Linked DNA regions of Homo sapiens. The protein of the gene in region 2 purifies or fractionates together with the protein of the main gene of each other region. This does not show direct contact. Each region holds a gene or a part of one and is shown on either strand. Other genes may lie near its edges. The genes, in order: ZFP1, SESN3 and MYCBP2.

Region 1 (10,472 bases), on a different chromosome or scaffold from region 2:
ATCACTCAAATTTTTATATCTTGTATTTTCTTTTCTGTTGTTGTTGTTTTTGAGACTGAGTCTCACTCTGTCACCCAGGCTGGAGTGCAGTGGCACTCAGCTCACTGAAACCTCTGCCTCCCGGGTTCAAGCAGTCCTCCTGGCTGGGATTACAGGCACCCGCCACTACACCTGGCTGATTTTTGTATTTTTAGTAGAGACGGGGTTTCACCATGTTGGCCCGGCTGCTCTAGAACTCTTGACCTCAAGTGATTCTCCCGCCTTGGCTTCCCAAAGTGCTGGGATTACAGGCATGAACCACTGCACCCAGCCTTTTTATTGTGTTTTCATTACCATTCAATTCAAATTTTTTTAACTTCCCTTGTGACTTCATTTTTTACCCTTATTTATTTAGATTGTATTGCATAATTTCCAAGTTTTTGGAGATTTTCCAGATCTTTTTTTTTTTTTTTTTGAGACAGAGTCTCGCTCTGTTGCCCAGTCTGGAGTGCAGTAGCGAGATCTCGGCTCACTGCAAGCTCCGCCTACCAGGTTCACACCATTCTCCTGCCTCAGCCTCCAGAGTAGCTGGGACTACAGGCGCCCGCCACTACACCTGGCTAATTTTTTTATTTTTTTTTGTATTTTTAGTAGAGACGGGGTTTCACCGTGTTAGCCAGGATGGTCTCTATCTCCTGACCTGGTGATCCACCTGCCTCGGCCTTGCAAAGTGCTGGGATCACAGGCGTGAGCCATCGCACCCGGCCCAGATCTTTTTATATTATTGATTTATAGTTTAATTCTGATTTGGTCAGAATACTGTGTTACGAATTTCAATTATTTTAAATTTGTTGTGGTTTGTTTTTGTATTGTATTTTTGTTTCATTTTGTTTTAGTAGACTCCTGGTCTCAAGTGATCCGCTGACCTTGGCCTCCCAAAGTGCTTTACAGGCGTGAGCCACTGCACCAGGCCTGTTGTAGTTTGTTTTAAGGTCGAGGATATGATGATCTCTCTGGGTAACTGTTTCGTGTGTATTTGAATAAATATTGTGCTGTTGATCGTAGAATCTTCCTTGATTGATTGATTGATTGAGACAGGGTCTGTCTCTGTTGCCCAAGCTGGAGTGCAGTGGTTCAGTCACAGCTGTCTGCAACCTCAAACCTTTTGCCTCAGCCTCCCGAGTAGCTAGGACTGCAGGTGTGCGCCCTAATCCTTTTGCCTCAGCCTCCGGAGTAGCTAGGACTCAAGGTGTGAGCCACCACACTCAGCTAATTTTCTGTATTTTTTGTAGAGACGAGGTTTTGCCATGTTGCCCAGGCTGGTCTCAAACCCCTGGGCTCAAGCAGTCCACCCACCTTTGCCTCCCAAAGTGCTGGGTTTACAGGCATGAGCTACTGTGCCTGACCCTCTTTTTCCATTCTTTTATCTTTTTTTTTTTTAATTTCCTGACTCCTACAACTGATCATCCTTTTACTTTGAATGTAGCTATGTTTTTATATTTTAAACAAACTGCTTATAGACAGCACATGGTTTGGTCTTACTTTTTTTATATAATTTGACCTCTGTTATTTAATTGGTGTGTTTATGCCAATTATTGATATAGTTGTGTTAAAGTCTACCATCTTGCTGGTTTTTTTCTGTTTTTCTTATTTGGTCTTTGTTTCTGTTTACCTTTTTTTCTGTCTACTTTTGTCTTAAGTGGGTCTTTTTTATAATTACATTTTATCTCCACTGTTGTCTTATTGTATATTTGTAAAAATTTAACAGAGTTTTTGGTTGTTACCCTAAAGTTTAGTGGAACTTTAAAGATATCATACTGTTTTATGTCAATATACTTGGAACATTATACTCCCAATTTCATCCTCCCGTCTTTTGCATTATTGTTGTCATACATGTTGCAGAATATTGACATATGCTGTAAACCCACAAAACTTTGCTACTATTTTTGCTTTAGATAATCTTTCACAGTGATTAAAAGCAAGAAAAAGTATCTATTGTGTTGATCCTCATTTTAACGATTCTCGAGATTTTCATTTATTTGTGTAGATTCAGGTTTTTGTCTGATATCATATTTCTTCTATTTAAATAACTTCATTAAACATTTCTTCTAGTGCAGGTCTACTGATAATGAATTCGCTATGTTTTTGTTGTTTGAAAAAGGTTTTTTACTTCATTATCATTTTTGAAAGATATTTTTGCTGGGTATAGAATTCTGAGTTAATAGTTTTTTGCTTTAGTTGCTTTTTTGTTGTTGTGAAAGCACTTTCAGGATGTCACTACTTTGTTTTCTGGCTTAGTTTCTGATGAGAAGGTGGCTATGATTCATTATCTTGATTTTTCTACATATAATATGTCTTTTTTCCTCTGGCTACTTTGAAGATTTTAACTTTGGTTTTCATTTGTTTGGATACGATGTGTCCATGTGTGTTTTTGTTTGAGTTTAGTTTTTGGTATTTTCCCTGTTTGGATAAATTGAGTTTCTTGGACCTGTGGTTTCATATTATTATTTTTGGAAAATTCTTGTCCATTATGTCTTCAAATACTTCTTTTCTCCTTTTGGAATTTCAGTTACATGTTTATTAGACCATTTGATATTGTCTCACAGCCCTTGGATGCTCTATCCTTTTATGTTTTTCTTCCATTTCTCTTTGAGTTTCAGTTTGACCTATCTTCAAGTTTACTGAAACTTTTCTTAGCTCCTTTGTCTACTAATGAACCTGCTGAAAGATCAACTCTGTTACTGTACTTTTCTTAGCATTTCCATTTGATTTTTTCTTGCAGTTTCCATCTCTGCTGAAATTCCCTATTTGTTTATTCATGTTGTCCACCTTTTCTAGTAAAGCCTTTAGTATATGAATCATAGTTGTGTTAAATGCCCTGTCTGATAATTTCAGCAGTTGAGGGTTCTGTTGATTGTTTTGCCTCTTTTGATAGTGGATTATCTTAGTCTTGCCTTTATGGGTGTCTGATAATGTTAGATTGAAGATAGGTGCTGTTAGTATGATCTTTTCTGCCCCTTCTGAAGAGGCAAAGGGACTTTCCCAGGAGGTGGTATTTTCCCAGGTGGTCTCTAGGGGTTTCTAAACAAGTCATTCTAGGAGTTGTAAGGCAGGTCAGACCTTTAATAACAATGCCTTCCTTTTTCCTCTATTCCAGTTCTGCCTTCATAGTTCTCTGCCTTTGCCCAAAACTGCAGAAAATGAACAAATCCCAGGTGAGTTGTTTGTTTATTCCCCATTTTGCTTTTCAGTGCATTTAAGGAAGTTTATAAGGATCCAGAAAATGAAATAGAAAAGTATGAATAAGACACAAAGGAAACATAGCAAGAATAACTAATCAATACCAGCAGCCAAAAAGCAAATTGAGTTAATTAAATGTCTTGCATTGGTTATGAATACCAATTATTTGGTTCTGTACATTAGGTCTGAATAAATTTTATGGACCTTCATATAGATGGTGTTTTGGACAGCACCCCCAGAAACAACCAACTTTGAAAGGGTTATCACTTTATCTGTGGTTGTTTCATATAACATTCCTCAGTGCAAGTGCAGAAGATTATTGTATGTATTTGGTTTTTCCAGTCAGATTAGCCTAATGCCAGAGAATGCAGTAAATATGTGGGTTTGTATTTAAATCCCTCCACCCCAAGCAGGTACCACTGTCATTACTTTCTTGTGTAGCTTTCCAGAGCTTATTTGTACATAATTACACAAGTACAAATAAAAGCACAAACGTAAGATAGCATGTTAATCATACTGTTCTGTTTATATGCGTTCTGTTTTAATAGATTTCATTTTTTTTAGAGCAGTTTTGGGTTTACAGAAAAATTGAATGGGGAATGCAGTGTGTTCCCATATACCCCCTCATTCCCAACCCCTACCCCCAGTTTCCTTTATTATTAATATATGCATTAATGTATATTGTTACAGTTGATGAGCCAATATTGATACTTTAAAGACCATAGTTTACAGTAGGGATCACTCTCTGTGTACATTCTGTGTATTTTGACCAATATATAATGACATGTATCCATCACTATGGCATCATACAGAATAGGTTCACTGCCCTGAAAATCCCGTGCTCCGCCTATGCACCTCTCCCTCTGTCTCCCTAAGTCCCTAACACCCACTGATCTTTCTACTGTCTCATCTCCCTAGTCGTGTCTTTTCTAGAATGTCATATAGTTGGATTCATGCAGTAGGTAGCCTTTTTAGATTGGTTTCCTTCACTTAGAAATATGCATTTAAGGTTTCTCCAAGTTCAAGACAATGCTGGCCAACACGGTGAAACCCCGTCTCTAGTAAAAAAAAAAGTACAAAAAATTAGCCAGGCGTGGTGGCGGGCGCCTGTAGTCCCAGCTACTCGGGAGGCTGAGGCAGGAGAATGGCGTGAAGCCAGGAGGCGGAGCTTGCAGTGAGCTGAGATCGCGCCACTGAACTCCAGCCTGGGCAACAGAGCGAGACTTTGTCTCAAAAAAAAAAAAAGAGAAGGTTCCTCCAAGTCTTTTCTTGGCTTGATAACTCATTTCTTCTTAGTACTGAATATGTCATGATGTGATGTACCACGGTTTATTTATCCATTCACATATTGAAGGAACAGATAAACTTAGTGGCTTCTAAGTTTTGGCAATTATAAATAAAGCTGTTATAAACATCTGTGTGCAGGTTTTTTGGGGGCATGTTTTCAACTCATTTGGATAAATACCAAGGCCCCTGGATCATACACTAAGAATATAATTAATTTTGTAAGAAACTGCCAAACTCCCTTCAATGTGGCTGTACCATTTTACATTCCCACATTCTCACCAGCAATGAATGAGAGTTTTTTTTTTTTTTTTTTTTTGGTTTTAAGGAGCGGAAAGTTTAATAGGCAAGAAAGAAAAGAGAAGGCAGAAGGAAGAGGCTCCCCTGACAGAGACAGAGGGAGGGGGGCTCCAAAGCCGAGAGAGGGAACCTCCTGAATGAGAGTTTCTACGGCCCTGCATCCTCACCAGCATTTTGTGTTGTCAGTGTTCTGGATTTTAGCCATTTTATTTATTTATGTTTTTAATTTTTATTTTTTTTGAGATGGAGTCTTGCTCTGTCACACAGGCTGGAATGTAGTGGCGTGATCTTGGCTCAGTGCAACCTCCCCTTCCCAGGTTCAAGTGATTCTCCTGCCTCAGCCTCCCGAGTAGCTGGGATTACAGGTGCGCACCACCATAGCCCAGCTAATTTTTGTATTTTTAGTAGAGATGGGGTTTCACCATGTTGGTCAGGCTGGTCTCGAACTCCTGGGCTCAAGTGATCCACCCACCTTGGCCTCCCAAAATGCTGATTACAAGCGTAAGTCACTGTGCCTGGTTATGGTTTGTGTTTCAATCTCTTAATTATGTGATTTGATTTTGTTTTGTTTTTGAGACAGGGTCTCGCTCTGTCACCTAAGTGGGAGTGCAGTGATGTGAACACGGTTTACTGCAGCCTCGACTTGCTGGACTCAAGCAGTCCTCCTGCCTAAATCCCCGCAAGTAGCTGGGACTACAGGCACATGCCGCCATGCTTACCTAATTTTTTGTATTTTTTTGTAGAGATGGAGTTTTGCCCTGTCGCTCAGGCTCATCTTGAACTCCTGAGCTCAAGCAATCCATGTCCACCTCAGTCTCCTAAAGTGCTGGCATTACAGGTGTGAGCCACCGTGCTCAGCCCAATTATGTGTTTTTTAAATCATTCAGTAACATATCTTTGAAGTATTTCCATATCAGAGCATAGAGGTTGCTCATTCTTTTTTTTCCTAATCTTTAATTGTGTGACACATGTACAGAATAGTGTATTAAGACATAACACTCTTTAAATGTGTTATAACAACATATATAACAAATATATATGCATTAAAGAATAATAATAAAATGGGTGCCCATGTAGGCACCCAAGTTAAGAAATAGAACATTATCTGTTCTTTATGACAAATTTTCTGATTGAATCCACCTAGTAGATAGCCACTATCTTGACATTTTTCTTAATAGTTCCCTTGCTTTCCTTAAAGACTTTACCACTTAGATATATTCTTAATGTAATATTCAGTTGATAAACTATAACTGGGATTAATATCACTTATAGTCTTAATATAAAATTTAGTTAACAAACTATAACTGGAATTAATATTGCCTTGGTTTGCATAATCTTTTGTCTAATTGGTGGAGGTTTTTTTTTCCTTTCAGACATGTGAGATCTAAAAGATGCATCCGTGGGCCCTTTGCCAAGACTTAGGTTATCATTTATTTTTTAAATTACACTAGCTAGTGTTAGCTAAGAAGAAATGAAACCACTCATGTATTGCTGGAGATAGTATAGAATGATACAGCCTTACTGGGAGCAATGTGGCAACACCAAGCAAATTTAGCAGTGTAAAGCAGCTGTGTCTAGAAATTTGGCTACTGTTGGGGCCAGGTGTGGTGGGTCACGCCGGTAATCCTAGCACTTTGGGAGGCCGAGGTTGGTGGATCACTTGAGGTCAGGAGATCGAGACCAGCCTGGCCAACATGGCGAAACCCTGTCTTTACTAAAAATACAAAAAAAATTAGCCGGGCGTGGTAGCATGCGCCTGTAATCCCAGCTACTTCGGAGGCTAAGGCAGGAGAATCGCTTGAACCCAGGAGGTGGAGGCTGCAGTGAGCCGAGATCATGCTACTGCACTCCAGCCTGGGCAACAGAGTAAGACTCTGTCTCAGAAAAAGAAAAGAAAAGAAAAGAAATTTTGCTACTGTTGGACAAAGCCTCCCAGGAAAAGATGAGCTGAATTGAATTTCCAGGTATAGCCTGGCTTTGACTTTCCTGAGAGTTTACAGAAGTCCCGTTTGGGGAGGTTATTGGCAAGGTCATGAGAAGCATGGGGCTCAACATAGTTGGGCCGTGTGACAGGGTCAGAGTGTAGACTAGGTATTGAATTTTTGGTACGAATATAATTAGAGGGAGTGGGATGCTATGCATTTTCTGCATCTTGGTTCACTGGTGAATAGCCACCACTCAGGAGTAGATTAAAGCAGAACACTTCTGTGACATGAAATGACTGTTCTCATCTGATCCAAGGCAGTCTGGTATGGAGGGGAAAGACAGATGTCATCAGAACATGTTCAAGATAAGCCAAACCAAGTACAGTTAAGAATCTGGGCCAGGCTCACCCAGGCATTCTGCCCTCAGGTTAATAAAAAGTTGGTACAGTGGCCGCAGGTATCTTGTTGATGACAACCCTCAGAATGCCAGCTTTTGAATCACTGTGTTCCAGTCCGTAACTACAAGTAATGTGGTGTTAGTAGAGAATCAGTGCTATTTCACCATCTCCCACCGCTGTCTCCTTCCCACTCCTAGGGATTTCCTTCCTCTCTCTCATGTTGATCTTTTGTTTGCAGCGTCTCTTTTTTGGATTACTGTTGTTTTATTGAAGTACATGCTTCAGCAGCTTCTTGAGAAAGGGTTTGTGAGAGGTATGTTTTTTAGGCTGAATTTCTGAAAATGTCTTTTTTTTTTTTTTTTTTTTGAGACAGTCTCACTCTGTCTCCCAGGCTGGGGTGCAGTGGTGTGATCTTGGCTCACTGCAATCTCTACCACAGGGTTCAAGCAATTCTCCCGCCTCAGCCTCCTAAGTAGCTGTGATTACAGGTGTGTGCCACTACACACGGTGAATTTTTGTATTTTTAGTAGAGACGGGATTTCACCCTGTTGGCCAGGCTGGTCTTGAACTCCTGGCCTCAAGTGATACGCCCTCCTCAGCCTCCCAAAATGCTAGGATTACAGGTGAGAGCCACTGCACCTGGCCTTCATTCTGTTCTGGTATTTGATTGATAGCTAGGTATGAATGTGGATTTGTCCATTCCTCAGTTTAGTTCTGTCAGGCTTGATATAATTTGAAGCTGTGTTAGTCATTGCATATATGGTTATGGATGTGTGCACACATATGATTCTGTCTTCCTGATGGACTTATCCTTTTATCATTTTGAAATGCCCCTCTTTATCCCTGATAATACTGCTTTTCTGATAAAAATAAAGCCATACCTACCTCTTCTGGGTTGGTTGGTTGGTTTGTTTTGAGACCGGATCTGGCTCTGTTACCCAGGCTGGAGTGCAGTGGCTTGATCTTCACTCACTGCAGTCTTTGCCTCCTGAGTTCAAGTGATCCTCCCAGTATTTGGAACTACAGGCGTGTACCACCATGCTCAGGCAATTTTTGTAGTTTTGTTTTTGGTAGAGATGGGATCTCGCCAGGTTGCCCAGGCTGGTCTCAAACCCCTAGGCTTACGAGATCTGTCTACCTCAGCCTCCCAAAGTTCTGGGATTACAAATGTGAACCACCATGCCTGGCCCATACCTCCTTTTTTTTATGATTAGTGTTATGGTATATATTTTATTTTTGCTTCAACCTATTTATGTTCATATGTTTATAGTATATTTCCCCTAAATAGCTTGTAGTTTGGTCGTGGTTTTGATCCAGCCTGTTTCTTTTTTCTTTTTTTGAGACAGGGTCTTCCTCTGTTGCCCAGGGTGGAATTTAGTGGCATGAACACAGCTCACTGCAGCCTCAAGTTCCTTGATCCAGCCTATTTCTGTCTATTTTTTTTTTTTTTTAATTTTTTTTATTTTTTGAGACAGGATCTCTCTTTCTCACCCAGGCTGCAGTGCTGGAGTGAAGTGGTGTGATCTTGGCTCATTGCAGCCTCAAGCAGTTCTCCCACGTCAGCCTCCTGAGTAGCTGGGACTACAGGCCTGTGACAGTTAATTTTAATTTTAATTTTTTTTATTTTTTTTGTCGTGATGAGATCTTGCCTCCCAAAGGGCTGGGATTATAGGCGTGAGCCACCATGCCTGGCCTATTTCTGTCTTTTAATTGGTTTATTATTTTATTTGTGATTTTTTTTTTTTTTTTACAGGCATAGGTGAATTTCAGTGTGTCATTTTGCTATTTATTTTTAGTTGTCCTGTGTGTTCCTATTTTCCCTTTTATCTTTTTTTTAAGTGGTTGCTGTAGAGATTACAGCTTATAATCTTAACTGACCACCTCTTTAATATTTTGCATATTACTTTACAGTTCGTCTGAAGTGTTTATGGGTTAAAACTAATATATAGGTACTGTCTACATCTGCTCCTTTTGGGTTGTTTATCTCTTGATTGTTTTTGTCTTGTCTTTTTTTTTTTTTTTTTGAGACAGAGTCTTGCCCAGACTAGAGTGCAGTGGCTTGATCTCCATTCACTGCAACCTCTGCCTCCCAGGCTCAAGTGATCCTCCCACTTCAGCCTCCTTAATAGCTGGGACTACAGGCACATGTCATTATGCCCAGCTAATTTTTGTATTTTTTGTAGACATGGAATTTCGTTGTGTTGTCCAGGCTGGTCTCGAACTCCTGGGCTCAAGCAATCCACCCACCTTAGCCGCCCAATGTGCTGGGATTTCAGGTATGCGCCACATGCCTGGCCTCGTTGTTTTGGCTTGCTTGATTTCTCCTTCATTCCTTCCTTCCTTCCCTTCCCTTCCCTTCCTTTCCCTTCCTTCCCTCACTTCCCTTCCTTCCCTCCCTTCCCTCCCTTCCCTCCTTTCCCTCCTTTCCCTCCCTCCCTCCCTCCCTCCCTCCCTTCTTTCCTTTCCCTCCCTCCCTCCCTTCCTTCCTTTCTCTCTCTCTCTCACTTTTCATTTTTTTTTTTTTTTTTTTGACAGAGTCTTGGTTACCCCCAGACTGGGGTACAGTGACAACGCTCACAGTTCACTGTAGCTGTGACCTCCTGGGCTCAGGCAACCCTCCCACCCCAGCCTCTTGTGAAGCTGGGTCCACAGACATGTGCCACTATGCCCGGCTAATTTTTGTACTTTTTTTAGACAGGGTTTTGGTATATTGCCCAAGCTGGTCTCAAACTCTTGGGCTCAATTTGTCCACCTGCCTCAGCCTCCCAAAGTGCTGGGATTACAGTCATGAGCCACTATACCTGGCCCTGGTTTTGCTTTTTCACATGTCTAGCAGTTTTGTTTGTATGCTGGATATGTTGTATGATACATAGCTCCTTCTAAAAAATGTTAAGTTTTGTCTGCCAGATAGCTAAATTATTGGCAGATGATTCTGATCCCATTGGGGCATGTTTTAAGATTTGCAGGTGTGGGTGTATCGGTTTGGTCATACTCCTTTCTCCTAGGGTGTGCTCCATCCTTCTAGGGCATGGCTTTTGTGGCATCTCAACTGTTTGCCAGTATCTCTATCTTTCTGGATTCAGACTGTCCCAGCTCCTCAGCACTATGCAACCTCTGAAATCTCTAGTCAGCTCTCAGTCTCACAGTCGATGCCACTAGTTGTCTTGGAGGCTTGCCCTCCACCTACACATATTAGGAACTAGCCAAAGATTTGAGGTGAATCTTTATGCAGAATGTTAAGGCTTCTCTATGGCTTCTGTAGCGCCATCATCCTATGTCTTACTCCATTTTGTGCTGCCATGGCAGAATACTTGAGACTAGGTAATTTATAAAGAACAGAAGTTTA
Region 2 (11,024 bases):
TAAAAATTTTTGCTTTACCCTAGATTTACCACCCCCCCTTTTATTAAGCACAATTTTCCTTAACTCTTAGTCTTTTCAAACTAAATACCAATTCCCCTTATTTGCTGAAGTGTCAAGGAGGCAATTTAATTATTCGAGAATCAAAAGTCAATGCCTTGCTATTTAAGTGCAGGGGTGGGAAAGGGGCAGGGAATACAGACAGAAATATGGAAATCAAAAATAAGTAAAAAAAAAAAAAAAAGTCATTCTGACTAAAAGCATAATCTTTACCTCTCATTTACAGGCAATAATTAAACAGGACAGAAAAGTGAGTATTAACCAAATTACTCAGTATGTATTGAAATATATTCCCATAAGACGGAAAGAACTAACATAGTCTGGGAAAATGGAAAAATATATGGACTTGTCCTTTTCTTTCTTACACGGTTTATAAAGTTCATTAACACACATCTATCTCTCTCCAACTATACAGCAATCTGTAAGGCAAGTAAAAATTATCAACATTTTACAGAGAAAACTCTGCTTTGAAATCAAAAGATCTGTTAAAGACCTAACTGCAACCACATCTGTGGCTTCCAGTATCACTACATTAGTAGTTATGTTTTCTATTTATTTAGGGTGGGGAGTTGGGGGAAGCAGCAGAACACTTTTTACAAATTAAATCTTCTATTGAACCTGAACTATAAAGCATATAAATATACCAAGCAACTTTCAAGTATTTTAGTAATAAAGTTACAACTACTGATAACAATAAATTTGTGTTCTCACAAGTAAACATTTAACTTAAGTAAATATGGAAGGAATTCTTTTTAAAAAGCCAGTTCCTTCACAATCAATGACAATCTTTCTCATACATGACACAGTAACAAAAAAAAATTCAAATATCTGTACAAAGATAGCAGAACAAATTGTAATTCAAGACCTGCACAAGAATAATTTTGTAATGAAAGATAATGGTGTTAGACTCCAGTTATTAAAATTATGTGTACATATTTGGGGGTACCCATATTTTTAAATTACAGTTTTAAAATAAGTTAAAACATACTTAAAAATTTAATGCAACTCAAGCATTTTAAAACCCCAAAGAATCTTAAGGGTCCATACGAAGCAGTTTGAAAACCATTGCATAAAGGTTTGCCATCACTAATTAACTACTTGATCTCTGCTTAGGATATTTAAGATAATCAAGTTAAAAACTGCCTTTGACAATCAAAAATATGTAACACAAGAAAACTGATTAACCAAGGCATAATGTAACTAGTGGTCCACAGATAGAGCAAATACATTTTATTGGCTAAACCATATAAAGTTGCTATTACTTAACAATTTTGACTATAAAAATGAGGCTCATATAGTTCAATCTAGTATTTTTCTTTTTTTTTTTTGTCTTTTTTTTTGAGACAGAGTTTTGCTCTTGTTGCTCAGGCTGCAGTGCAGTGGCGTGACCTTGGCTCACCACAACCTTGGCTCACCACAACCTCCGCCTCCCAGGTTCAAGTGATTCTCCTGCCTCAGCCTCCTGAGTAACTGGGACTACAGGCACACGATTCCACGCCCAGCTAATTTTTGTATTTTTAGTAGATATGGGGTTTCACCATGTTGGCCAGGATGGTCTCGATCTTTTGACCTCGTGATCTGCCCACCTTGGCCTCCCAAAGTGCTGGGATTACAGGCGTAAGCCACCATGCCCGGTCCTCAATCTAGTATTTTTCATTTTGACAGTATCTTTGTTTATAAAACCATCAAAAAGATGTCAAAATATATGATCATATAACAAAGTGAAAAGTGCAATAACAATACAAAGATATATCACTATAACTATCTTAACATTAAAAAAGTTTAAATGTTAGATCCTCTAAAGAGCACAAAACTATTCATTTAAGTAGCACTAACTGCTCAATACCCAAAGTACATTGGAATATGCCACTTTTTTATTTACTGGAAGATGAGTGGACTGATAATTACCTACCTTCCTCAATGCAGTTTGACACATGACTTTTCAAATTAAAGGATTATGTTCTTCTAGTTATCACTAGAATTTCTTCAAGTAAAAGATTAAACTTAAAAACTCGTTAACTTTACAAAATAAATAGAAGCATTTCCTCTTTTATTAAAAACTTTACTGAACTACCTCATTGACAATAGAGCAAGTTAGACTTAAGAGTTAGGGATTTCAGGATAGTTTTGATGGTTAATTTATTTATGGATATGGTTTACCTCTCCATTCTTTTTACTGTCCTAAGGTTACCAAATTAGGTACATTCAATATTTTAATAAGTCTCTTTATTTTGGAGGATACTAAATCAAAACCGTAAACGGACTTCTAAGAATAAATGTAATTCTCATACAATATATAATTCAATATTCAGGCATTGGGTTAAACCATATTATTTCATTTGAAGGTGAATTCCATTCCTTGTGAAGTTCCCCTAAAATTCAACACACTGCAACAAATTAAGCCACCTACTGAGAGAATAACACTTTCTGTCCCATATAAAGGTGACCCTTCTTCCATCATTATATAGAAATATAAAAGCAAAAGTAATTCACACTGGATGAGCATGAGTTTCATTCTTCCATTATGAATTAGACTGAACAAACATTCAAAATACTATGACTCACTTGGCTACATTACTGAACACTTTATTAAATGGAAAACAAGATAAACTCTAAGAATCACATTTTGAGAGTTATAGATGACTTTTAACTTAGAGTTATATCAACAAGAAAAACATGTCTTTATTAGAAATAAACTTTTCATTGTTATTTTAAGAATGATGAAACATTTAAAATGCTACATACTGATTCTCTTAAGAGCACTTCAAAGTGGCACTCTTTAAAAAGCTGCAAATGTTGCCAAGTCATGTTATAACTGGCTCAAAGAATCCTATTTCCATTAAGTTATTTCATGCCACTGCATGAATCAATATTAAATACCTTGGAGTTACTAAAAACTGGAATACTGGCAGAGATGTGCTCAGCAATTATAAAATACGAAAATGTGAATACTCTTTTTCCACGTTTCTTTTAATAATGGCTAGAAATGAGGATGTTCTTTCTAGGTAAACAGAAATAGTTTCCTAAAAGCTAAAGGAAAGATGTAATATCTTAAATGCTAGCAAAGTGTCATGGATCCATAGCCATAGCTCTCTCAAAAGAAAAATGAAATACATTTTGAAGCCTAATATTACCTCCAAACATTTTATTAGCCTAACAAATTGCCAGAGCCATTAAAAAATTTTTTTATCAAAGTCAATACAGTGCTCTTTTTCCTTATTCAATTAAAAAGCATAACTTGCTGTCATTTTAACCAGGCTGCACTTTAATCAAACATGTCTTAAATGACACATTTTTTCATGTCAAAGACATAACATAAATTTAAAAATTAAGAAATAAATTTTTTTGAAAGCTAAGTTCAGATGACATCTGGCCCTGCAGTGAAAGAGTTAACATCCAACTAAGCTGATCTGCACTTCTGATCCATTACATTTCTCACAAGCTACCCTACAATGAGCTGAGCAAGTATCAACTGTAATTTGATCCTAGAGTTTATGGAAAAAAATAACTGCACATACTCAACATGCACATTTAATAAAAATCTGTTTCAAGAGAAACATATCCAATAAACACAATTTAAGGCATATTTAACTGTTCAATTAACCTCAAATCTGCAATCCCTTTGCTCTCACGCTCTCAAATAAAATAGGAAGAAAAAAAAAAGCAGCAGCCCTACTGCAGGGAAAAGAGGCTTGAAAAACAACTTTGATTGGCACTTGGCCTGACCCACAGAGGAAGAAAAACAGTTTTTGGACAAAGAGCGCAAATATTTGAGCTTGCTTACTTATGTGCTTTTTTCTTTCTTCCTTTTTTAAAAAAAAATGTAGAAAGAACAATCCCAAAGTGAACCGTATTTAGAGATGTTGACTAAAAACGGTACCATATTCATCTCCGCTTTCAGTCCCGATGCATTTGCACAGCTCAGCAATTTTAATTCATTTGTAGTGAACAAACAGAAGCATCTCACCTAACGTTTCCACTTAATAAAATGTAAAAATAGAGTTTGAATACGAATAAACTGATTATAATATTACTTTGGGGCAGCTGTTAAAATCTGATCAAAAAGTCTAGAGACCTTTTTTTCATTCCCTTCCCCATCCCTCTCGCCCTTCCCCGCGGGGCGATTAAGCCAAGTAAGCTAAACAATACTGGAGTAAACTTTCTATCAGTCACTCTAGGAAGCAGCAATAAACTGATGGTGCGCCTCATTTTTCTGGATCAACACGGGGGCAGGGGGGTGCTAAGGAGGAATAACCCACATCCACCTCAGTCTTCTCCTCCCCCAACCCCAGCCTCAGGAACTGGCCAGGTCGAATTGCATTTCCCATGGGCATAAAGTTCAAGATGCTTTACTGGTTCCTTTCGAGACTGAACTACAGACACAGGACTACCATCCAAACAATTTGAAAACGGGGGTTGTTGAGCAAGGCGCGCAAGGCAGAAGCAACCGAATAAACAAAAACAACACTCGCAAGAGTTAGCCACAGCAAAGAGGGGCCAGGTTCCTCGGGATCCGACCCAGCTGCTCTGATTTCACACCGACCTCCATCAACAGCTAAACTGCACAGGGAGGAGGATCGAACGGATCCCTCCCGCCCTCCGCCCAAGGAGCCGACCCGGGGTAGCAAGGTAGGGAAATGAGCCGTAAAGGAGAGCAAAGGCACCAAATAAAAGGAACAAGGGAAGAAAAAATATCCCAACCCCTCCAGACTTGGGTCTGTCCCGGCGGAAATAAAAAGCCGCAGTAGTCCAAACCCTCCTGCCCTCAACCCACGCCCCCTTTCTCAGTCCCTGCGGAGGGACGGTGCCCGGGGATCCCTCTCAGCCTCCCCCAGTGCGCGCCCGGGGACGAGCCGCCCGAGCCCCGGCCGGCAGGAAGCGACCCTCGCCGGCAGGACCCCGGGCCGAACCCGTACCTTCCGCAGCACTTTCCGGCAGTTGGTACAGAGCAGGTAGTTGGCGGCGGCCGACGGGCTGCCGCCGCCCCGGTTCATCGTGGCTGCGGGCGCCGAGGCGAGAGCGGGCGGAGGGCCGGGTCCGGGCTGTCACTGCGGCCACTGCAGGGCCGGTCCGTCCCCCCGCCGCCAGCCGCGATTCCGCCTCAGCCTCCTCAAGGCGGGATGTCGGGAGGAGAGGCGACTGCCTGAAAGCTAGCGGCACTGCCAGAGGCGACCACCGCGGCAGCTGCCCCAGCGACGGCGGAGACGGCGGCGGCTGCTCCTCACCGGCCCGTTGTTCCACCCGCCCCCATCTTCCAGACCCCCGCCCCCGCCAGGCTAGGACGAGCAGCCGCCACCGCTGCCACCGCCACCACCGCCGCCGCAGCGCCTCAGTGCGGCCCCGCCTCCGCCGCCCCACCACCTTCACCACCTCCACGCTCCGGTACCGCCCCTCCCGCCAATCGGACAGCTCCGGCTACGCCCCCAGGGCGCTAGCCCGCAGCCAATGAGCAACGAGAGCCCGACTGGGAGTCGCGCCGGCCAATCGCAGGGGCCGAGGAAGCCTTGAATCTCCGGGCAAGTTAAGTTTATCTCCGAGGCTCGGAACTGAAGGGAGGTGGCGGTTAGCTAAGTAGTAGGGTAGCAGGGAACAGTTTGCTCTCCTCTGCCAATAAGAGGACGAGGGTGTGTCATATGCAAATATACTGCCCTCCAAGCCCCACCCCCAAGATAAGCTACGCCCCCTTCTCTAGGTCCCTGCAGAAGTGGTGAGGAGAATGAGATAAATAGTTGGGAGCTAGAGCTCGCTAGAGAGTCTAAGATTGAGCTAAATATTTCCTGATCTCTCGAGAAAGGGGGAGGGGAGTGGGAGGATTAAATGTTCCTTCCTTCAGGGCAGTGGTTAGGCTTTCTCTCCACCAAAATCTAACTTTAGCTGTAAAGAAGACTGCAGTTATGTAGTACTTTGTATCCAGGGATCTCAAAGAACTTTACGCATCATTTATTGTGAACCTTGTTTTGCAAAGATTTCAGTTACTTGAGGCTTGGGAGGCGGATAGGGGATAAATGTCTGAGTTATATATATATTTACGCAAGTAATCGAGTTTGAGGGGAGAGACACAAAACCTCTGGTTTAGCGGTTTCCTCTTGTTTGTGAAGCACCTTCTAGCAGTTATCTTAGAGATGTAAGTTCATTTACTTGTCCAGCACTAAAAGGCCAAAGGGGCTTGTTTTCTCACCCAAAAGACCTTCCTGAGGCAGCTGTTCGGATACATGCAGAGCACAGCGCCCTGCTCAGAAAGGAAGGTTCAGAGAACAAATTGTCGTTTAAAACTATTGGGACAAACCTACCTCTTCTAAAGCTTAAAATGGTAAGTCAGGGTTTTAGCGTCCACGTTCTGCGGAGAGAAGGCAGACTTGACTGGGGAAAGCGCAGGCTGACCGAGTGTGGCGGGACAGACGGGTAGGGGAGCCAGGTCTCCCGAAGGGGCTAGCAATGCGCGTCCGAGTCGAATGCGGGTTCCCGATGCTAGACGCCCGCAACCTGCTCCCGAGTGAGAACAAAGGCCGGCGCAGAGCGAGAACCTGATTGGTGCCCGGTCCTCACTCGTGTCCTCCGGGCCCCAGAGATAACTTGCATCGCCTACTGGCAAGGAGCTCTGTGCTCACTGGAGCCCAGCTCCCCACCCGGCCATGGCCGTGGCCACAGGACTGTGCATTATGACATCACCTGTTTTCGATTTTTAGAACCTAATCAGTATTCTCGGCTTCTCCCTTTTTAAAGGTCTCCAGCGTACCAGGATTTGTGAAGGCCTGAAGTTCGTAGAATGAAATCTATGTGGAGATGATTTAAAAGAACGGTTTCACTGGTTTGCATTTCTTTCTTTTCTTTTTAATTAAAAAAAAACAACAACCCTGGTTTCCTTAGGGATTCAGGGTGGTGTTATGCAAAATCGGAAAGGTACACTTGGAGGAGCTAGCAAGTTTAGCATATCAAAGCTATTAGACCAATTTGTGCGGTTAAAACTGCCATTCTCATTTCTCAACAGCTGTCTCCTCTCTGTCCCTTTTTAGAGACCAACACATATAAACCAAGTCTACACAAGAAACAAAGGTAATGGAAATCTGCTAGTATCAGGTTTAAATAGATCAAAATAGAGTAGAAAACCCCAAAAGGGTCTAAGTTATGTAGTTGGGTAAAGGTGTTGATCTATTTAGCCAGTGTTAGCTAAAGGTCGCTTGATGCTGTGTAGACATACATAACTAAAGAGCAATGAATGGTGTGGGGAAGGTGCTTAAGATTCAGTTAGAAGAAACTGTAAAAGCAAGTAAATTCAGAAAAGGAGGGAATTACCACATGCCCTTCGATGCAGAGAACCAAGAAATGCAGGGAGAAAGTCAGCAAGGCACAGTTTTTCTAAGAAACACATATGTGTCCCCATTTAGTGGTAAATTTCTTGGGCTATATTCCTGGCTGGTTCTGGCTTTTAAAGCAGATTTTATGTGAGTACATTTTAAAGGAAAGGAGAAATTGAAGGATGAAGTGAATTTTTGTGCAGATTGAATTTTCTCAAATAGAATTTTAAATTCATATTGTTTTCTAGCACATTCTTCTTATAACCTTTTCTTTTCTTTTTTCACTTGACAGCTAAAATCCTTTCGAAATGAGTTCCTTTAAGTTCTTCAGTAACTAAATCCTCCAGAAAGGAAAGCCGAGAGAATCTAGTCCTATACAATAACACCCTCTAACAAAGATCGCTAAAGGAAGATTTTAGTAGATGAATATCTTCAATAATACATGGTCACATACATGTATCTGACCATATGATGGCTCTCTGCACCAAATTCCTCCAAACTATTATAATATGTATTGTCTGTAGTGCTATTTATTTGGCAGTTAATCATGTATTACATTGTGACATTTCTTACAGTGAACCATTATGTATGTGTTTATGTTCTGCCCTCAACTACTCAATGCCAGTACCTTATTCTTAACACAGCAACCACCCTTTCTGGTCTGTCCTCACACCCTCATTCCCATCATAGTTATTCTCCTCTCTCATGGAAATGTTCAGTTTCTGGACATCTCCTTTCTCTTCCATTCTTCACCTGACCTTCCTTCCTTTCTTGGCCAGCCTGAATATTATAAAGGGAATTTTATTTCAAACCCAGGATCGCACTTAAGAGGAAAAGAAACAAAAGCCAGTTCTTTTTATTGCACATAGAACAAGGAGAAACTCCACCCCTTTTGTTGTCTGGTATGTTTAAAACAAGAAAGAACTTTAGAAAAGTAGGATATGAGTGAAAATTACAACCAATGTTGAGAACTACTTTTTAATTTTTTATTACAAAATTAGGATGATACTTCATTAAACATTGTACATCATTTCAAAACTGTTATCTCATAATCATGTTGCTTGTTTTGAATTATTCTTTTAAAGTGTAATTTTTTTAAGCAAAGAATCCATAAAATTACATGGCTTGGATGTACCATAACTTACTTAATCCTTATGCTATTGTTTAATATGTGGGTTGTTTCAGATTTTTCATGATTGTAAATAACAAAATAAACTTCCTTATACTTAAGTTTCTGGCAGAATCTCTGATTCCTAGGCCTGGAATTTCTGAGTAAAAGGGTATACATATGTCTTAAGGCTCATGGTGCAACTTGCTATAATATTTTGTGGAAAGATTTGAATAAGAACACAGGTGAGAGCAATCATTTGAAAGCTATCATTCTGCATAAGGCCCATCAGTATTCCACCTACCTCTACCTTAATCCCTTTCCCTTCTTCCTTCTGCCTGGTGAATATCTTCTGTTGAAACACTTCCTGAATCAAGCACTTGTCCAAGCATCCATAGTGCCCCTCTATACCTCTTCTTTACCAAAAAGCTCACTAGGGAAATGGTAGGTTTAACTCCTGTTTTCTCATTAGACTTCAAACCCCTTGAAGGCAGGGATAGAGTAACATTTACTTTGTATCCTTGGCTCCTAGCTCAACTGATAGGGAAGTGCTCAAAAAAATTTTGGAGAAAGTAATGAGTTTCACTCTTTATAAAAGCACCCCAATAAATGTGAATTGAATTGTTCAGAAAAATCCACTGCTTTGAAGCAGAGAGATTAGGCTCATGTTCTTACCTGTCACCAATCCTTCTCTGACATTGAATGTATTAACTATTATGGGTTGGGCATCATTCTCTCTTTTATCAAATGAAAGTTGTTACCACAAACCAGAGGTGTAGGAAGGGTTGAAGGAAAATTTTTGTGTTTAGCATGTTTGATTGAAGTTACCCTGTTAATAATATGCTGTGACTTTGGACTTGAAATTGTTTACTTCTTTAAATATTCTCATTCTATTGACCAAAGAACTGAGTTCCTCTATAGTTTCAAAATAAGGAGTTAATTGAGAAAAATCAGTTACTAAAGATATTTTTAAAACTCCATTTCTTGAGACAATAGGTCACTTTCTAACATTTTGCCTCTTCAGGCCTCTTTTTCTTTCTCAAGGGGACACCCAAAGCATTTGGATTGCTGGGAAAGTGCTGCATTATTTACACATTTGCAAATACTGTAATTTGTTTCTTGCACAAAGGAATTTACACTTCACACAATTGTAAATTGATTGCTCCCTCAGAGCTGTTAATTAGATTCCTGCTATTTTTTTCTAAGGCCCAAGACCAATACTACTCCAAAGGAGAAATAAGAGGATCTGTTCTCAAAAGGCCACTACTTTAGTTCCCACCCCATTCCACCTCTTCAATCACCCACCTCCACTAAGATTATTCTTATCGAAGCTCATTTTTCAAAAAACAAATATTCCACCAGGACCCAAATTCCTGTCAGCTTGCTCTTCTAACATTTCAGATCAGAGTTTTCTGTATTTAACCCCACTATAAAGCAGACTACAAAAGGCCTACAGATGTGAAGGGTGTGGTTTATTTGTTTGGCTTGCACAAAGTCAGCCAGCATGATGCTTTTTAAAAAATTTTTGAATTGCTTTCAAATATTCCCAATTCAGGATTTTTTTTTTAAACCAAAAATCTAGATTTCCATTTTCTTTAGAAAAATTGTCAGATCTGGTTACACTGGGCTTATATTCCCACAGGGCAACCATCTGTCAAGCTCACTACTGGCTATTTGGTTTGGACATGCACTCTTCTGTTTACTAAGGTCCCTGCCACTCCCTAGGGGTTATAATTTTGCCATTTTATTTACATTATCTTCTTGCCCTTTGTAGGGATTTGAATTTGCAACCTCCATAAACCTTCTCCAGCATCTAAATTATTGATCTGTTAGTTATCACTGTTAACTTTATCAGAGAACACTAATTAAAAATAAATTTGTCACCTCTTTACTATAACAAAAGGAAAGGGGTCACATGCAAGCAATATTGTGATGTATGATGTATGATGATGTCAGGTACCCTGAAAAAAAAATATATGTATATTGATATGGTTTGGCTGTGTCCCCACCCAAATCTCAACTTGAATTTTATCTCCCAGAATTCCCACGTGTTGTGGTAGGGACCCAGGGGGAGGTAATTGAATCATGGGGGCTGGTTTTCCCCATGCTATTCTCGTGATAGTGAGTAAGTCTCATGAGATCTGATGGGTTTATCAGGGGTTTCCACTTTTGCTTTTTCCCCATCTTTCTCTTGCCATCACCATGTAAGAAGTGCCTTTTGCCTCCCACCATGATTCTGAGGCCTCCCCAGCCATGTGGAACTGTAAGTCTAATTAAACCTTTTTATTCCCAGTTTCGGGAATGTCTTTATCAGCAGTGTGAAAATGACCTAATATATATATTATATATATATACATATATACACTGTATATAGTATGTATATATATCTCACAATGGGCTGAACAATTATCTAACTAAGAAGAGACTACTATGTCCTTTATGCTGCTAACTCCGCTTCTTATCCTCATTCTGCTCAAATCCCTATTCTAATTGTTGCTTTAGGATAAAGGAGCCACAGGTAATGTGGCAATATTGGAAGAGCAAGGAAGCCAGGCCTGATGCAT
Region 3 (10,898 bases), on a different chromosome or scaffold from region 2:
GCAACTTATGGGCAGGGGTTTAGCTTTGAGCAGCCAGCAGTCAACACTCTCAACAGCTGGGGAATAAGAGCCTCATACCTGAAGGGGTATCTGGGAGGCACACTATAGTAATCTTTAATAAAATCCAAAGGCATCATATAAAATACAGTTCAGTGAACTTTCTGATGTTTTGACTTGATTAAAGGAAGAAAATTTAGGACCCAGGGGAATGAATGGGTTTTTATGCTTTTAAGTATTTTCCATAAATACATATTTCATTCGGACAGATTACTGATAGATTCTAGATAGGGAATGTGTCCTGAGAAGATGCTAGAGTTGGTATATCAGGTAGAATGCTTTGGCTGCAAGCAACAGAATACTTCATCAACAGTAGCTGAGACAATTAGGAATTTGATTTTTACCTTGTATAAAAATAAGTTTGAAACTTTGTTCAATGGTTCTATGATGTCAGGGTCAATATTTATGATGCTCTTGGCCTTATCTCATGCCTCTTGTCTCATGGCTATGAACATCAGCCATTCTGTCCATCTTTTAGGTAGAAAGAAAGGGAGAGAGAGAGAAGTAGTACTAGCAGATTTTCCCTCACTGTGCTGTCCTGAATTGTGTCACGATGCCAACTCTAGGTGCAGGACAGACTCACAGAGAAAATATTTCACTTTTTCCGGCATCCAGAATGGAGGCAGGCAAGGAAGAAGGGGATTTAGAATGGGTGTGAGTGAGCCAACTAATATTTTCAAAGCAGATTTCTGTTTTGCTGCTTGATGTCAGATCCGCAAGCTTTCAAGACCAGATGAAAGATGATAAAATGCCATCCTTTGGCTGAGAAACCAAATCAGGTTTATTATTTGGATGGAAGACCATCTGTACCATTCAGGGTCCAATCAGGAAAACAGATAAATGCATGCCAGGTCATTAAGAGAGAGAATTGAATATGGGGAACTAATTGCAATGCTACTCTAGGAATAGAAAAGCCAAACAAGGGACAGAGATATCTACAATCCCTAGGGCTGGAGACACCAAGGAGAAAACGCTGCTACCAGGGTCCACAAGCTGGGGCTGCTCAGTGAGAACTGGCTTTACGAGAGGTTACCTAATTGCAGCTGGACCATGGAAGGAGAAGCTGTTCAGCAGGAGCTGGAACCACAGAGGAGATGTTGCCTAAAGTTGGCGGGGGTGGGGTGCCGGGAGAGAGAGAGAGAGAAATTGATTCTCCTGCTGCCTACTTGCCAGTCACCCATTTTGCCCCCAGGCTGAAGCTAATTTGAAACTAGCTGGCAAGGGAAGCCTGACAAATGGAATTTGCAGGGATCCTTCCCCTGCTGTACAGAGCAGAGCAGGAGAATGGACAGGAATGGACTCAAGAGCAAATAAGCAGATTCCTGGCACACCACCCCACCAACACTGAGGTAGACTTTAGAAGTACCTGCAGGGATGCCACAGTTTTTCTCTGCAAGCAGTGTTGTCTTTGCTGCACCACAAAAATTAGTAATTAATTCAGTTCACAACAATTTGGCATCAAATAGGTAAGATTATTTTGTCTATCCAAGAAAATTCTGTCACCACAAGTTAATTTAGGAAGACTGTGAAATATTTTTTATGACTTTTATGTTCTAAAAACTTTTAAAATAGCTTCCGGTCTAGTTTGAAGGCAAACCTGATATGATATCAAAAAAGAGGCAAAATATTCTTAAGAAAAATTTTTTATGAAGAACTGGTAAATTGGCTCCTTTTTACTTTCTAAATATAAATGTAGAAATATTCATCAAAATAGGAAGCCAAACTAGGCAAGGTCAAGATTTTGATGTTAAATTCAGATTAACCTACAGAAAATGTAAATTATAGATGATTTATAGTTTTTGAATCTGGAGAGATACCATAGCTACTAGCCTTTTGAGAAGAAACTATAGTCTGTTTTGGCTGTTACATGTCGAAATGTATCCATCAGTAAAAATTCAAAACACTTATTGAATTTATGAAGGTAGGCAATGTGTTTTGTGAGTTAACAAATTATACAAGAATGGGTATTTTAGGGAAACAACTATTGTCTTTGGATTCTATTCTTCCTGTCATGTCAAGACACAGTAAATCTTTATTTGTGGACAGGACTCTTTGTTAAGAAAACAACAAGAAAACCAACTTTCAAATCCTAATCTATATAACTCAAATTGTATAACTGTTTTGTTACTTCTAGCACAAGATTAGGACATCCCTCAAATAAGGGATCATTAATATATTAACATAATATTGACAATAATAGCTATGGCCTGCTATGTAGTATGTTAAGCAAGTAAGTCATACAGATTATTTAATTTAACCCTCAAATAATCTAATGAAGTAGGTGCTATTATTATTCACTTTACTGATGAGAAGATGTAGCATGAAAGAGGTAAAAGTCTTTGAAAAAAAAGACCATGACTAATATAGTCATTTTAGAGCCATTTAGTTATATCAGGTTATCTGGATTTGGCAATAACCCTATTAAATATATTTAAAAGAAACATTAATATGACATAGTTGCTATTCTACATGAGAATTTCAATTATCCTCTTACTATTTAATTTTAGTAATAAAGATCAATCTAATATCACGCCAGTTAAAAATGGCTTATGGCCAGGCGCGGTGGCTCACGCCTCTAATCCTAGCACTTTGGGAGGCCAAGAGGGGGCGGATCACCTGAGGTCAGAAGTTTGAGACCAGCCTGGCCAACATGGTGAAACCCCGTCTCTACTAAAAATACAAAAATTAGCCAGGTGCGGCAGTGCGTGCCTGTAATCCCAGCTACTTGGCAGGCTGAGGCACAAGAATCGCTTGAACCCGGGAGGCGGAGGTTGCAGTGAGCTGAGATCATGCCACTGCAGTCCAGCCTGGGTGACAGAGTGAGACTGTCTCAAAAAACAAACAAACAACAACAAAGAAAATGGTTTCTATCCAAAAGACAGGCAATAACAAATGTTGGCGAGGATGTGGAGAAAAGGGAACACTTGAACACTGTTGGTGGGAATGTAAATAAGTACAACCACTATTAAGAACAGTTTGGAGGTTCCTCAAAAAACTTAAAATTGAGCTACCATATGACCCAGCAATCCCACTGCTGGGTATATACCCAAAGGAAAGAAAATCAGTATATAGAAGAGATGTCTGCGCTCCTGTTTGTTGCAGCACTGTTTACAATGGCCAAGATTTGGAAGCAAACTTATTGATGTAAGTGTCCATCACCCTATAAAGGGATAAAGAAAACGTGGTACACACATACACAATGGAGTACTATTCAACCATAAAAAGAATGAGATCCAGTCATTTACAATAGCATGGACTGAACTACAGATCATTATGTTAAGTGAAATAAGCCAGACACAGAAAGACAAACATCACATGTTCTCACTCGCTTGTGGGATCTAAAAATCAAAACAATTGAACTTATGGACATAGAGAGTAGGATGGTTACCAGAAGCTGGGAAGAGTCATGAGGAGTTTGGGGAGGGGAGATGGGGATGGTTAATGGGTACAAAAAAAAAAAATCAGAAAGAATGAATAAGACCTACTATTTGATAGCATAATAGGGTGACTATAGTCAATAATAACTTAATTGTGTATTTTAAAATAACTGAAAGAATGTAACTGGATTGTTTGTAACTCAAAAGATAAATGCTTGAGGGGATGGATACCTTATTCTCCATCATGTGCTTATTTCACATTGCATGCCTGTATCAAAATATCTCATGCATCCTATAAATATATACACCTTCTATGTACCCACAAAAAAATTTTAAAGTAATAACAAAATTTAAAAAAGATTAATCTAATAACTTATAAACTATACTAAAGTTTTCAAGGTTGAAATGCTATAGTTTTAAACTTTCTGTTTTTAGGACAATTATACTTTATATAACTTTCTACATCAGTTGTGAAAACATCCTCTAGGCTAAATGCATCACAACAATGAGATTTTGAAAGAATGTGATTTGCATTCAGATATATAGTATTGAATTCACATACTTAAAAAACATATACTAATATATTTTAGGATAATTTTTCACGGATGAAAATGTCAATATATGTCAATATATAACTTAGGATCCCTGGAACCTAAATTTTTGGATGTGGGAAAACTTGGACATATAATTTACATCTTTTAAAACTACCATGAATAAAAAAGAAAAACATTAACTCATCATGCTTACAAGTTACTGAATATCCCAAGGCCCTAAAAATATAGTTGTTTAAAGCATGAGGTTAAGATAGCCAGGGGATGCAATATGTAATTTATGTTTAAAATAATTTCGATAGCCATGTTGAATTTTTCCCTTCAGCTTGGAGTACTAAATATATTCTATGAAATATACTTTATTTTAAAGTGCAATATATTTGTCAAGAATGCACTATCTTATTACCCTTAAAAAGAGAAGGTCACTGAAGAGTAAAGCATGTCTTCACTCTTCAAGCCTAAGCTTTTTCTTTTTTTTTTCCCAAATTGTTCTCAGCTACCAATTTTGTTTTTAAATTCCCCAATACATTGTTGTACAAATCCAGGAAACAAACGCAGACTTTACCACAGCATTTTCAGCAGTCTCGATGTACCTAATAATATACATACTTCCTGTGTTTGTAGTCTTGTAGCTTTAGTACAATATTAACCCTTTAAATGAAACAACACTAATCTGTCCTCTTATATACACGTTATGGTTCCTGCCCTGTTATTTACTACATCAGCACGGGTAGCTTCCTTTAAAAACAAAATCGTTAAAGATGAGAGTAGGAAAAATGTAAATGTGATAAGAGTTCAAAAAACTGTGGTCCAGGTTTGCAATGTTAAGTGGAAAAGAACGACTAAATCTGTGATCACAAGGGGAAAGATGAAGCCATAGTCTTATTACATGGGCACAGGACAGAGAGATCTCTTTTGCGAAATGAGCATACCAACCACAAAGAATAAAACATACTACGCCCGTAATAAAATGGGCACAGGCAGGATTTGCCGTAGTTCAATGCTATTCTTTGAGGGCGAATGTGTCGTGGGTGAACTGCTGTCTAGCCCATTCCGACACCCAAGCCGCCCAGGCGGCCCCCACGCCCCCCGGCTGCAGCCCTCCCTGTACACACAAATGCACACACGCCCAGCCCGGCCGCTGGAGGAACTAAGATGGCAGCGCAGAAAGCACGGGGGCCGAGCTCGGTGGGGTGGGGAAAGAAAAGCAAAGCCCTCTGTGTTTTTTCATTCTGTATAGGTCCCCCTCTTTCCCCAAACACAAGGGCTGCGTAAGGCATTCGGTAGTAGAGCTCGCAGGAGCGGCGGGAGGGGACGCTTGCTTTGCATACTGCCAGAAACCCACGTCTCCGATCTGCAGCGACGGTTCAGGCGACCCTCGCGACTTGTGACCACACTCTCCTTCACGTCCCCTTGACAGTAGAAGTAAGGGTGACTCCAAATGCCTTTTTCTTTCTGGCATGCGCCCCACTCCCCCGCCATCCCAGGGGAGCCTTCCAAGTTGCCCAGCTGCCAAGGCGGTAGCTGTGGCAGTTGCAGGGACCGGGGAGCGCGCCGTGCGGAGGCAGGAAGAGGAGGAGGAGGAGAAAAAACGCTGCACTGGCTATCAATTTTGAGGAGAGCGACCGCTGCCGCTGCCGTGGAAGGAAACGCTGCCAACCGCAACAGAAATGCCACTCTCGGATACCTAAGTGAGCATGTGTGCGACTCTGCGCACGCCTAGTTGCGCAGCTCAATGACATCGGGCTTCTTAGCAAGTTATCCAGTTTCCGGGTTTTGAGTGTACCCATCAGGCTCCGTAGGGGCCTGTCTGGGACTGAACAGCAGTAAAGATTGAAGCGAAATTAATGAATGGTGGGAAGAGCCCGGAGACCAGGGCAGCCACGCGGGTCAATGTCCACTAGAAACTCTAAATGGGCAGTGACTGCACATTCCACCACCTGAGCCTGCGCTGTAAATGTTTTCTGTGCAAGCAACATTCATTCATTCAGCCAACATCTATTTCCCTCCTGTTCAGGGCTAGACCCTGTGCTAGGAGCCTGTGATGGTTGAACAGACACCATTGCTACCCTACGGAAAACCTAGTGTTTTGTTTAGTATGTGCTACCATTTGTGAAAATTCATGTGCCAAGTTGGACATCCTAGATCCTTTAAGTCCTCCCTCAATCTCATGTAGTGGGTATTCTTTTGAGCATTATTCAGAGGAGATAATTTGCCCAAAGCCAGACAAGTATTAAGTAGCAGAGTCAGGATCCAATTCCAGGGCTGTCTGATTTCAGAGCCTTTTAGCTACCCTGCTAGGTCTTGCAATAGTAATGGGCCCTCTCATTGCTTACCTGTCAGGCCTTAGAATTCTTAGAATTTAGCTGCCTCTACACCATTGTCTTGGTTCTCACTCCAGGGTTAGGGGCTGCCTGGTCAACACTGAGGTCTTTAACTGTGCTGAAGCATTAGGATAGAAATTTAGTCTAATAAATACTTACTGGATACCTACTACATGCAAAGTCCTGAAGTGGCTGAAGGAGACACAAAAGCAGCAAGCTCTGAAGGAACTTAGGTAAGGAAACAAGACAAATACAAAAACTTAACAGGGCTAATTACAGTACTAAAATACTATGATTCCACATGTCTTGTCCTTTGTTCCTATGTTTATCCCACTGCTAATTATCTTTAAAAAAACTAAATGAAATCCATCCATTATTTAAAGCTTCAGAAAAAAATGCATTGCTTTCAGCAACCTTCCACCCTAAAACTAGAATTAATTTACTTTCCTATTCCTTGTTGTTTGCACTTCTCAAACACTAAGGAGGATTTTTTAACATTTATTTTATTTTTTTTTAAGAGAAGGCCATCCGAAGAAGAGGCACAGATATAAGAACTAGTACATAGATGAAAGATACAGTACTGGGATGACAGAACTTATAAATTATTTTGTCAGGACTGTAAATTAGGAAACTCTTCAAATTGAGAGTCAAAGGATAAAACGTAGTAGGAATCAAAGTGCATTGGCACGTATATTTCTAGAGCATATACTTAGATGGGGTTCGTAGGTTAGCTTGGAACAAAGGACTGAGCAAATGTTACTTTTTTATAGACAACAACAAGATATGTGATGGATCTGACATTTTCAGACGCTATACAGTCTCCGTCACAATTATTGTTTCAGATCGCATTCAAGAATTATCTTTAAAAATGTAAGTTTGGGCAGAAAAAAATAAACCATTAAATGACCACTGCCAAGAGATAAAAGTGCACTCTTAGGTGAGTGAGGAGTCAATAAAAAAGAGTAATTTAAAAAATATTATTGCTCCGTTGAGAACAAGAATTTGGGAATGACTCTGGCTTGTGAATACTAGCCTATCTGTTATACTTTCACACACAAAATACTTTCACACACAAAAAAGAATGTGCTAGATTACTACCTGTCTTTGTAAGTAAAAGCTGTGTTAAACAAGCGTAAATCCTAATGACAAAAACCATATAAAATAAGATCGCTAAAGGCACTTCTAATTGGGATGGTTTTCTCTGCCTTAAACTCTGAATTAACCAGCACAATTCACAGTAAATCTTCCTGTTGGCAGCAGAGCCTTGGAGAAGAGGTAGCAGAAGAGCGTGCCACTCCTCCTCTGGCGATGGGCACGTTCCCCCTTGCTTTCTGGTCCTCGTTCTTCCACCTGGAGGGAACCTGAAGTCGAACGTCAGTAGCTGACAGCCTCCCCAGCACTTTCCTTACTCTTCTTCAAGCTGCCAGTAAAACCCGGAGAAGTGGACTACTTCAGATTCCGCACAACCCAACAGCCCCAAACCCAAAGCCCCGAGGCGGAGGGAGTGGTGGCGGAGAGGGGGTGGGGAGGAAAAGGGGCGGCAGTTACTGAGCATGTGCGAGGAGTGGCGCATGCTCTGTGAGGCCGGCAGCTTCCCATTGCGGGTAGCCCCGGCGGTGGTGGCGGTGGTAGCGGTGGTGGCGGCGGCAGTGGCGGCACCGCCTCCTCCTCACATTCCCGGGGTGGCGGGGTTAGATGAGCGGCCCCAGTAGCGGCGAGGGCGGCGCGGGGGGGAGGAGGAGAAGAAGGAGGAGGAGAAGGAGGTCGCTGTCTTTGTAGTCTCCCTGCTGCGGGAGCCAGAGGCCGCCGCCGGAGCCGTCGTCGTTGGAAAAGGGCTGTGTGTGCGCGCGCGTGTCTGCCCGCCCGGCCCGCGGGGACGAGGCGGCGGCGGCGGCGGCGGCGGCGAGGATGATGATGTGCGCAGCGACTGCCTCCCCCGCCGCCGCCTCCTCGGGGCTCGGCGGGGACGGATTCTACCCAGCCGCCACCTTCTCTTCCTCCCCGGCGCCGGGGGCGCTGTTCATGCCGGTTCCCGACGGCTCCGTGGCTGCTGCGGGGCTGGGGCTGGGGCTACCCGCCGCGGACTCCCGGGGTCACTACCAGCTGCTGCTGTCAGGCCGGGCCCTGGCCGACCGCTACCGGAGGATTTATACCGCTGCGCTCAATGACAGGGACCAGGGGGGCGGCAGCGCTGGACACCCAGCCTCCAGGTGCGTCCCCAGGGTGCCCTTCCTTGCGCCCCATGCCGCCCTTCCTTGCGCCCCATGCCGCGCGTGCACCCGCGTGTGTGTGTGCTTGCGTGTGTGTACCTGCGCATTTATTGAGCTTTCAGTCCGCTCTGGATGTCTGTTGGCAGGAGCACTTATCGAGATAGGAGGGTGCGGTGGCTGCAGTTTCTCGTGTGTGTGTGTGTGTGTGTGTGTGTGTGTGTGTGTGTGTGTGTCTGCCTGCCTATGTGGGGGGATAGTGAGGGGTGGTAGGGGAACCTGTGATGCTGGAAAAGGCGATGGTGCTGGTCGGCTGTGACACGTGTGTGTATCGTTGAGGTAGGAGGTGGCATGGGTAGAGAGGGTAAGAGGATGATACACGAAGAGAATTGCAACAGTGGCAAGGGAAGTGGCGTTTTCAGTGTCTCTGCCGCAATGTTATTTGCACGTGCCGCCTCTCCCATGACATTCCTTCCAGCCCTTTCCACCTCCCTTCAATCTGCCTTTCACCAAGAGGAGTCATGGTATAGATTGGTTGAGTTTTGGATAAGCAGGCCCGAGGGATAGGCGTGAGGTTTGCTTTAAAAAGATTTATGAATAAGGGACGCAGATGGAGATCTGTGTGGATGCGAAAGGTGTCTGATAGAGATTTTTAGAGCTGTACTTTGATAACCGGGCCTTTTGGTCTTCTAGAAATGAGGTTGCAGTTACTCTTGTGATCTGATGTCCCATCGGCCATTTCTCTTCATCCTCTGTTCGATTTCCTCTGTTACTTACAGGCTTTAGAGTAGAGAGGGTTTTGTAGGGAAAAGGGGAAAACTGCAGAACTTCAGAATATGACAGCTGGTACAGCGTTCAACTGCCACTAGCTAGAAAATCTGAATAGCGCGTAGATTTGTCTCTTTTACTTGGGTTGGCTACACCTTCAGCTTCCTTGATGTAGATGTTCAGTTGGTTTCATTTTCTTTTTCTTAAAATGTGGGTGCTTTTTTTTGCTGAGGGCTCTCCTATTGTTTTCTTTTCCATGCCCTTACATGCCGCATACCCTGAAGGTTGGTGACTGACTTGTTTCACCAGCTTTGACAGTGGTAATTGGGAGTTGGCTTCATCTTTTTTTTCCCACAGCTTCTTGCAGTACATGGGGAAAACATAGTAGGAAACTGTCAAAATGAGTTAAAGAGTTTACTGTTATTTATTGAATGTGCAATTTATTAGGCAATTGTTAGGTGTCTTTTTCTCCCATTATGAAAGGGACGAGGCTGTAAGTCAGGTATTTGTAGCTTATCACTAGGTATCATGGCTTATCTGTTGGAGACAGTTGTAAAGCTGGAGCTTTGTTCACACTTTTTCTAGGTTAACCAGTTTTCTCATGTCTGTGATTGTTTACAGGATTGGGCACAGCAGTAGTTTTACCATATGGATGTAAACGTGTGTAACTATTTTTTGCTATCTGAACTGAAGGCCAGAATGGCACAAGTCTGTTTCTTGCTAATGCTTTTGAAAATAGCACAAAACTACGTGAGACAGTTTGCCCTGATAATTAGGTATAATTTTGATCTGTAAATCTCTAAATTATGGCACCGCAGGAACATCTTTACAAACTCCTCTCAAAGAATTTAAATTTATTTTGTGTATGGTTTCCAGACTTATGCAATAATTTTTGACTTGTATATTCCTGTTTTGACTTCCTACTACTAGTGTAATATGATTTCTGTGTATCTAGAACTATATTAACGGTTTTAGACAAAATTAACATAGATTAATCATATAACATTTGTGAATGATTTTTTAGCCCTTGGTCCATTTTTGTACAAGCCGTCAATGAAAAGTAATGAAGAATTAGTTCAAGTATTTCAAGAACTACTCATGGAAATCAGCATTATGTTATGATATTGCCTGCTAATGCTTGTTCAACGCAACATTATTGTTTATTTAAGTTCACATTATTTTATTACAAAAAGTAGCCTGCAACTACTCTATTGATGATTTGATTAAGAATTAAATCACATTTCTTATTAAAGATGTTGAGGAAAGTAGACTTGGGGTTTCGGCTCTGAATGAATGATAGAATTATTTGTATAGGGACACAAGTTAAAGGAGAAGATGATATCTTTTAGAGAGACTGAATGGAGCAATAATAGAGAATGAAGCTCTAGTGAGCATCAGGTTTAAAGGTGTGAGAGAAAGGAGACAGTGAAGGAAACGGAATCAAAATTAAGAAGAAAATCATGAAACAGTAGCCTCTGTGGCTCTAGGAGAGTGGATTGAAAATTCTCAGAAGTGGTAAATGTTGAAGAAAGTGAGAACCGTTTTCAGGTCATTGATAACTTTTGAGGAAGTGGTCAGAATAGAGGGATGTGGTGAGGAGTGAATGGAATGTGT

What was found.
Region 1: the proteins of SESN3 (region 2) and ZFP1 purify together in Homo sapiens (affinity purification with mass spectrometry; 3 studies listed by BioGRID and IntAct, with this or other methods). This does not show direct contact.
Region 3: the proteins of SESN3 (region 2) and MYCBP2 purify together in Homo sapiens (affinity purification with mass spectrometry; 3 studies listed by BioGRID and IntAct, with this or other methods). This does not show direct contact.

Annotation. Positions count from the first base shown.
Region 1 is NC_000016.10:75,149,773-75,160,244, forward strand, and holds part of ZFP1 (zinc finger protein 1 homolog), read left to right. Parts: intron 1-3,136; coding exon of another isoform or gene 3,137-3,179; coding exon 3,180-3,194; intron 3,195-7,364; exon of another isoform or gene 7,365-7,439; intron 7,440-9,380; exon of another isoform or gene 9,381-9,402; intron 9,403-10,472. UniProt on the Homo sapiens protein: May be involved in transcriptional regulation.
Region 2 is NC_000011.10:95,225,810-95,236,833, forward strand, and holds the start of SESN3 (sestrin-3), read right to left. Parts: upstream 5,394-11,024; 5' UTR 5,052-5,393; coding exon 4,974-5,051; intron 4,687-4,973; exon of another isoform or gene 4,377-4,686; intron 1-4,376.
Region 3 is NC_000013.11:77,324,095-77,334,992, reverse strand, and holds the start of MYCBP2 (E3 ubiquitin-protein ligase MYCBP2), read left to right. Parts: upstream 1-7,898; 5' UTR 7,899-8,004; coding exon of another isoform or gene 8,005-8,088; 5' UTR 8,089-8,217; coding exon 8,218-8,519; intron 8,520-10,898. Other genes in the region: uncharacterized LOC127898562, read left to right, coding at 8,005-8,088. UniProt on the Homo sapiens protein: Atypical E3 ubiquitin-protein ligase which specifically mediates ubiquitination of threonine and serine residues on target proteins, instead of ubiquitinating lysine residues.